2 separate regions of the Homo sapiens genome follow, and region 2 is linked to region 1. The links come from fine-mapping of genetic effects on gene expression. A gene starts in region 1. The other region holds a variant in brackets. All regions are shown on one strand. Distances are between the middles of the regions.

Region 1 (4,399 bases):
CTTAATATGAAAGCCATATAATTTTCATGTGTATGTATGCATTGTTTGAAGCTTCTGACAACTTGATACTAAAAAAACAAGTTTCTTTCAATCAAATTCCTATAAAGGTTTTCTGACATCACTGTACCACATGTAATTAATCAAATGTTTTCTTATTGTCATAACTTCTTTTGTCGATTAAATGTTATCTGTTAATACCCATTCTCTATGATCAATTATCACTTGAGTGCTAGAACGCCTCTTGGAGCTACAATCTTTCAAGTGACTCCTTCTTTCCACATACCTTGGCATTTTCTCCCTCAAGTCTTAAATCCCTTTTTTGCAGTAGAAATGCTCCAGAGCTTTTAGTATTTCCCTCAGTGGTATACTGTGTATACTGCCACACTGAATGTGACCCTATATTATTCTCCAATATCCTTGGAAAATATTATTCCGTTTATTTTGAGAAATCTCAGACTTCCCAATGATGCTTTTAATATTGACATGATTACTATCCAACTCATCTTTTTGCTGCTGTCATAGTGTAGGTTGGGGTGGTTCTGTTTAACTTAAACCTTTATATTTCAACCCTGATGTTTATCTTTATCCCTGGGATGGGTTTTGAGAATTACTCTGTGACATTCACTTTTAGATATTTGAAAGCAGCTTTGCTTCATTGCAAAGTTACTCTCAAAAGCTGACAAGAAAGGCAATGCTAGTTCTTTAAGTTCTGGTGCTGTCAATACTCTAGGGATTGTTCTTTCACTGATTTGTATTTGTACTTGATTTTGTGCTGTGATTCTGGCAGGGAAATCACAGTGCTTTTGTTGTATGTGTATAATCTGGCAGTGCTTTTGTTGTATGTGTATAATCACATGCAAATTCTAGGGATGCCCTGAACTCTAAGTAAGCGGTAAAGGTCAGGCTCTACATGACTTGCTTAGCAATGGATGTTTAGAAGTTTGGTATACTTGCAGTTTTTCAGGTGGTTAATTCTAAAGTCCACTTAAAACCAATGCTGTTTTGCTATGAACAGTAAAACAGGCTACATTTTAAGTTGATTTATATAGATATTTTAACATTTAAGAACAATACTATACATCTTAATATTCACTTTTAAGATTAAAGATAAACTCATGAATACTTATAAAGTATTCACTATCATTCTAGCTAAGATCGGTGTTATAGTAGAAGGTAGTTATTTCTGTCAAAATACTTCGAGAGCCTACGCTGACTCAAAGATTACATGTTCTAGACTGACCATCTCCGGATAACCTCTATTTTAAGTGGACTCTGTCAAGCAATTCCTCTTCTTAAGCTCTGGTAGGAGAGCCAGGCTCGAGTACCCTTGGAAATGAGAGAAGCCTGGTTTGCTTTCTTTCATTATGAAAAACCCGGATCAAGGCATGTTTTTCAGCTGCTTCGAGGATGGTTTATTCTGGCAGGTGGAGGAGAGAAACTCTATACACACATAAGCATTTAGGGCACGACAAAGATGTCAACAGAATGAAGAGCCAAGTACAATTCTTCCCCTCACCGCCCAGTTCCCCGTCCTGCCGGGAAGAGCGCGGAGAAGCGACTTAAAGGTACAGGCTGTCTACACCCCCGCTGGCTAAAAAAGCTTGCAAATCAATCTTTTAAAATGGTTTATTGTGTTTTCCTCCATTCCTCAATAATCTGAGAGTGATGAGAAGACTAGACTGTTACTGTGGGTTTATTACAGCCAGCCATAGTCGTACAATGGGATATTTAATTTAAACACCCACAAGGCACTCAGCACAGCACACTGTCCTGTGCGGATTGCTGCTCGCCACTTCCAGGAATACCTTCCCACCCAGACCAAGGAAGGCAGCTCAGTCCAGCGCCTCCTGTCCCGCCCCGCCCCGCCCCAAGGGGAGGTGCCCAGCTCTCCCCGCCCCTCGCCCTCGCCCTCGCCCCGCCCCGTCGCGTAACCCGGATACACACCCACGCTCCCCTTTCACCTCGCGGCCGTAGGCTAACGTGGAAGTCGGACCAGCCGGCCGGCGGAAGAACCTAGAGCGCGCTGCCTGGCGAGTCAGGCGCGCGGGGCGGCGTTGGTGGTCTTCGCGGCGCAACTCGGCCTTTCCTGGGAGGGAGTGATGGGGCGCACCGGGGCCGGGGAGCGGGCGCCAGTGTAGCCCGCGCGGCGCCTGGCCCGGAGCGCGGCGGCTGCGGCGGCGGCGGCGGCGGGCGCTGGAGGCCTGTGAGAGCCGCAGCCCGGAGCGCCCGGCTTCCCACGCCATGGCCCCCATGGGCATCCGCCTTTCCCCACTGGGGGTGGCAGTGTTTTGCCTGCTGGGGCTCGGCGTGCTCTACCACCTCTACTCGGGCTTCTTGGCCGGCCGCTTCAGCCTCTTCGGCCTGGGCGGCGAGCCTGGCGGCGGCGCGGCGGGGCCCGCGGCCGCGGCCGATGGGGGCACCGTGGACTTGCGCGAGATGCTGGCTGTGTCAGTGCTGGCCGCAGTCCGCGGCGGCGACGAGGTGAGGCGCGTCCGCGAGAGCAACGTCCTCCACGAGAAGTCCAAGGGGAAGACGCGCGAGGGAGCCGAGGACAAGATGACCAGCGGCGACGTGCTGTCCAACCGCAAGATGTTCTACCTGCTCAAGACCGCCTTCCCCAGCGTCCAGGTGGGAGCCCACGGGCGGAGCGCCCACTCGAGCCGGGTAGCGCGTCTCGGCCCGTCGACTCTTAACAGTATGGGATGTGGAGCTTCTGGTTCCATTTTGTAGATGTGGAAATTGAGACGCAGAAGTTAACGTGCACAAGGTCAGACAGACAGCAGAGGAGCTGGGTGAGGTTGCACGTAGTCTGACTCAGGGCCCGTGCCCTTTTGGCTCGTCCTGGGTCGGGTGTGCGCCGTGTGTACCTGGGATCAGAAGGCCTTGAAACGAAAAGGCTGACAAAGTTAATTGCACCCGCAGCTTCAGGCTCCTCTGTAGAATTAAGGGGTTGGCTAAAATCCACCAAGACTCTCTATCCTTCCTTGATTTCATCCCTAGAAGGGTCGAAACTGGAGTACACATTTTCTGGGTGGCCTGCCAGTAGCCAGCTGAAAGACCGAGTCTTGTTGCAGAGCTGTTAGTGTGCGGGGCATTTGTGTGTGCGTGTGTGCGCTCGCGGGAGTCGGGGTGGGGGGGTGGGGGATGAGTATGCTCATTTCGCTGTCTTTTTGTCAGGACGCTCTAAAGTTTATAGTTTGCGGGCCCTTTAAGGAGGTACTTAGAAATATACCAGCTGTTGGTCCTACCTGGCCCTTGATTAAAGATCCATATTTACTCCAGAGAATAAGAATTAAATAACATTTGGCTTTTCTTTGGGTAGGTTTCTGGGAAGGGAGTTGACATTTTCTTAAGGAAATCCAGACATTTTGGATTTGTTATTAATACTTTTTGAATTCATCATTTCACTGGAGCTGCTATTGAGTTGAATAAAGCATATTTAAAATTTGCAGTTCCAGAAACTGCAAATTTTGTTGAGGAAGAGCTCAGCATAGCGTAGCAGCACCTTATTAACGTATATCTTAACTCACCTAACTGTAGTTTTGGCTACTGGGAAGAAAAATTGTCTTCACTGGAATTTTATTAGATAAACAGTGATGTGCAAACCCAGGCTTCTTTGGAAGGTGACTGACCTTTTACTGCTGATCTTGAAAGAGTTAGGAGAATATTGTCATTGTTTAGTTATGTATTTTGCATAAGGCTTCTTCCAGTCTATCATAATATTGCTTTGGTTTTGTTTTTTATTCTCCTCTCTTCCTCCCTTTTCTTTCGTCTTTTTCTTTTTCCAGTGGAAAGGAACATTGTATTTCCTAACATGAGCTACTGGATACCAGATGTAATTAACGTTAGAATTTTTTTTTTCAAATTTCTACTTAAAACACAGAATATTTCCACTTTTTCTTCTTCCCTACTCTGTTTTTATCATCACAAATAATACTTAAATTTTTTTGCATCTAGATGTAAGGTGTGTTTATGAAATATTTTACCCCCTTTCCAAAACATACGTGTTTCCTTCCCCAAGAATTTATAGAGGAAACAGGAGATTCAGAGAAGTTGCTATTTAATGGTTATAACAGTACTAATAATAACCATTTATTGAATATATTTTACATGCCCAAATACTGGCTACACAGGACTTCATTTGATCCTTAACAGCAACTTTAAGAAGTAAATTTTATTTCTGCCTACTATACAAACGGGAAATCTGAGGCTCGTGACACTCCAGCTTATATGAACTATCCCACATTTTAGCTAGATTTTTAGAAGGCTATTTAAAACTTATAATTGTAGAAGCTTAAAAGCAGTAATAGTGAAATACAGCAAGCAGAGTTGATTTTTCTTTTTTTAAGTAAAAACAAAAGTATCTTAAATGTTGAAAACACATCTGTATGTGTGTGCA
Region 2 (4,399 bases), 53 kb after region 1:
CAGGTTTATGTCAATATAAGTTGGAAAATCATGCAGTTATTTTGGTGTTCATTGCATCTCATTACAGGCCACATTTTGAGTCTCACCCTCTGAGGCCCTCAGGGACCTGTGGTGGGAGTATGTCCTGGAGAGCACCAGCAGCCCTTTGTAAAGCAGCCAAGTGAAAGTTATTAGAGTTCTTCAGGCAGCAGCAGTAGAAGTGCAAAGAAGGCTTGGTGGAATTTGGGGGTACAAGGTCTCCAGATTTATCAGAATCTGTCCATATGACCCAATCCCAATTTTTAGAATCTCATTCCTTCCCAATCATTGCCCTAATTTTAACAAAATAGACCATGCAAGTTTGAGTATTCAGTTTGCCTTGTAATTCACCCACCAGCAAGATAAACTTTGAATTCGTTTTTCAGAATCTCAGTTCTGTAGTCACAGGAGATAAGAATTTTTTTTAAGTTTTTTATTTATTTTAGAGACAAGACCTTGCCCTGTCACCCAAGCTGGAGAACAGTGGCACAATCATAGCTCACTTTAACCTCAAACTCTTGGGTTCAAGTGATCCTCCCACCTCAGCCTCCCAAGTAGCTAGGACTACAAGTACGTGCCACCACACTTGGATAATTTTAAAAAAATGTTGTAGAGACAGATTCTCACTATGTTGCCCAGGCTGGTCTTGAGCACTTGGCCTCAAGTAATTCTCCCACCTCAGCCTCCCAAAGTGCTGGCATTACAGGCGTGAGTCACTGCCCCTGGCCCGTATTGTTTTTAAGGCAGTCATAGGAGCTTTTCAGGTCCTTATGCAGATATTAACCTGGGAATTTAAAGCCCTGAACTCATTTTTTTCCCCCTAAGTTCTACAGCACATTTAGAAGAAACCAACCTACTCCATTTTACTCTGCATTTTGCTAAAATGTTCTAGAGTAGTAAATACTTTGTCCCCAAGAGACTTCTCTTCTATGGGTAAATGTAGTTAAAAATTTGCATGACTTTTGCAACTGATTGCCATGTTCTGCCCCTTTGCCGCTGGAAACAGGGTCATTAATGCCTTCAAGTCTAATCAAATTGAAAACCAACTCCATATTCAATTCAAAGAACTTGTCCTTAAGATGTTGTCCATCTGAAACTCTTTCTTGGTGCCAAATTCTGTATCAATTCAAATTCAATCAGAAAAGCAAAACCACTAGGAATATATATTATGTACATTTATATAAAAGTATATATAAAAGGACGGGCAAGGTGGCTCATGCCTGTAATCCCAGCACTTTGGGAGGCCGAGGTGGGCAGATTGCCTGAGGTCAGGAGTTTGAGACCAGCCTGGCCAACATGGTGAAACCCCATCTCTTTAGTAGATATATTTTTAGTAAATATAAAAATTAGCCAGGCGTGGTGGCAGGCACCTGTAATCCCAGGTACTTGGGAGGTTGAGGCAGGAGAATCGCTAACCTGGGAGGTGGAGGGTCACAGTGAGCCAAGATAGCGCCATTGGACTCCAGCCTGGGCAACAGGAACGATACTTCATCTCAAAAAAAAAAAAAATTATATATACAATAAGGAACTTGTTAAAAGGATTTGACCTCATGTAATTGTGGTTGTTCTTTAAACAGTCTCTCTAAAGTTGCTGTCTTGTGCTGATGCTGAGTAGCAGGGTCAAGCCCTATCTAAGTCACAGCATCAAAAATTGTGAAAATCAACACTACCATTAGCATAGGGCTTTCTTCAAAAATCCCAGGGACTAGAAGGCCCTGAGAGAGCGGTCTAACTAAGGGAACAAGAGTGAAATGTTTTACAAGACTTGGGCAAGAGGCATTTTGTGAAAGTTTAACTAGTTTAACTTGGATGATTCTCTGAGAAGGAAGGGATTGTTCTGTGGATGTGCAGCCACTGTTTGGGCAATTTGGATTTTATTGGTCAGTGTAAATCAAAGACAGTGGTGAGTCTCAATCATTTTAAAAGGCTTATTCGCCAAGGTTAAGGATGCACCTGGGAAAAAGACATGGAACCATACGAAAAACTGTGGTTCATGCTTTTTCCAAAGAGGGTCTGGGACCTCAATATTTTAAGAGAAAAGGGCATATATTGGGAAAAGAGTAAAAAAAGTTTATAAGGGTGTGGGTAGATAAGAGGCAAGCAGTTGCATTCTTTTGAGTCTTTGATCACCATTTATTGAATACACATCTTACATGTGAGAAAGAAGTACAGAAATAGTCACTTATGCATTTTTCT[C/T]GCTCAGTGAAACTGCATTTTTATGTAAGATAAAATAAACATAGGGCAGAGGAAGCAATACATTTGTCTCAGGTGAGCAGAGGGATGACTTTAAGTTCTGTCCTTTGTTCCATGCTTGTGAAGATAAATAAGCTATCAACTTACATTGTCAGGATGAAATTCAACAAAGCTGTTTTAGGGTAAAGATCTTGGAGCCCATTGTGGGCACATGGTGAGGGAGGTATGTAGCTCTTTTATCTCTGTACCTATCTTATTTAAGAAAAAAAGGAGAGGCAGCTTTGTGTGACTCCGTTCCCAGCTTGACTTTTCACTTTGGCTTAGTGAGCCTGGGGCCCCAAGATTTATTTTCCTTTCACACCAGCTACAGGAACAAGGACATGCAAGGGCCACAGTGAAAAACTCTTGTCTCTCCACCATGTTCTCAGGCAGTGGGAAGCCCTTTTCTCCTCCCCTAGAAATGGTAGGGATGCATGTTACTCTTCTTTATATTCTCAGTGACCAGCATGGTACCTGACACAGAGGGGTGCTCCATAAATATTTATTGACTTAAAATAACCTGAAGAGAGAAGAGGAAGGTGCTGGAGAAAAAGATAAACAATTGTAGAGTAAGATCATAAAGAAGTGGAAGTAGTTTTAAAAGCACAGATGGGCTGACTCAGGAAAGGAGAAGAAATCTTATTCTCTGAGACAAGGAAGGAAGAATTTGTGTAAGAATAAAAGTATTTAATAAAAGTATTTATAAGGAAAGCTCTCACACCTGTAATCCCAGCACTTTGGGAGGCCAAGGCGGGCGGATCACCTGAGGTTGGGAGTTCAAGACCAGCCTGACCAATATGGAGAAACCCCATCTCTACTAAAACTACAAAAAATTAGCTGGGTGTGGTGGTGCATGCCTGTAATTCCGGCTACTTGGGAGGCTGAGGTAGGAGAATCGCTTGAACCCGGGAGGCGGAGGTGACCCAAGATCATGCCAATTGCACTCCAGTCTGGGTGACAGAGCGAGACTGTCTCAAAAAAAAAAAAAAAAAAAAAAAAGGGAAAGCTAAGTGGGAGTTATTTAACAGCCTTGGCATTTGTATTTCTTGGAGAATTGGGAGTAAGATGAAAAATTTTAGGGACAATGGTAACAATGCTATTTTCTTTTTATTTTTTAATTATACTTTAAGTTCTAGGGTACATGTGCACAACGTGCAGGTTTGATACATAGGTATACATGTGCCATGTTGGTTTGCTGCATCCATCAACTTGACATTTATGTTAGGTATTTCTCCTAATGCTATCCCTCCTCGAAGTCCCCACCCACCAACAGGCCCCAGTGTGTGATGTTCCCCGCCTTGTGTCCATGTGTTCTCGTTGTTCATCTCCCACCTATGAGTGAGAATATGCAGTGTTTGGTTGTCTGTCCTTGTGATAGTTTGCTCAGAATGATGGTTTCCAGCTTCATCCATGTCCCTGCAAAGGACATGAACTCATCATTTTTTAAGGCTGCATAGTATTCCATGGTATATATGTGCCACATTTTCTTAATCCAGTCTATCATTGATGGACATTTGGGTTGGTTCCAAGTCTTTGCTATTGTGAATAGTGCTGCAATAAACATATGTGTGCATGTGTCTTTATAGTAGCGTAGATTTATAATCTATATTTGGGTTATATACCCAGTAATGAGATCGCTGGGTCAAATGGTATTTCTAGTTCTAGATCCTTAAGGAATCGCCACACCATCTTCCACAATGGTTGAACTAATTTACACTCCTGCCAACAGTGTAAAAGCGTTCCTATTTCTCCACATCCTCTCCAGCATCTGTTGTTTCCAGACTTTTTAATGATTGCTATTCTAACTGGTGTGAGATGGTATCTCATTGTGGTTTTGATTGGCATTTCTTTGATGACCAGTGATGATGAGCATTTTTTCGCATGTCTGTTGACTGCATAAATGTCTTCTTCTGAGAAGTATATTTCTTGGAGGCTTTGTTCATTTCTTTTCACTCTTTTTTCTCTAATCTTGTCTTCTCGCTTTATTTCATTAATTTGATCTTCAGTCAGTGATATCCTTTCTTCCACTTGATTGAATTGTCTATTGAAGCTTGTGCATGCGTCACAAATTTCTCGTGCTTTGTCTGTCAGCTCCATCAGGTCATTTAAGGTCTTCTCTACACTGTTTATTCAGTTAGCCATCTGTCTT

Alleles and levels. Alleles are on the strand shown, and positions count from the first base shown. SD is a standard deviation of normalised expression in the study named.
As copies of C replace T in region 2, the expression in pancreas of the gene that starts at base 1,960 in region 1 goes up (small effect, 0.23 SD a copy in GTEx).

Evidence for each region. PIP is the estimated chance that this variant, and not a neighbour inherited with it, causes the effect.
Region 2: its variant is the best candidate, but not a certain one, in a credible set for the expression of BPNT2 in pancreas (GTEx, PIP 0.71).

Annotation. Positions count from the first base shown.
Region 1 is chr8:56,991,428-56,995,826 of GRCh38, reverse strand. BPNT2 (3'(2'), 5'-bisphosphate nucleotidase 2) reads left to right here and starts at 1,960. Exons shown (of 5, transcript NM_017813.5): 1 at 1,960-2,628. The coding sequence starts at 2,242. RefSeq lists a silencer at 1,844-2,403.
Region 2 is chr8:56,938,529-56,942,927 of GRCh38, reverse strand. No RefSeq gene overlaps it. Among named protein-coding and RNA genes, the nearest start is that of BPNT2, 53 kb to the left of the region's middle. The variant C/T (reference allele first, on the strand shown) is at 2,215.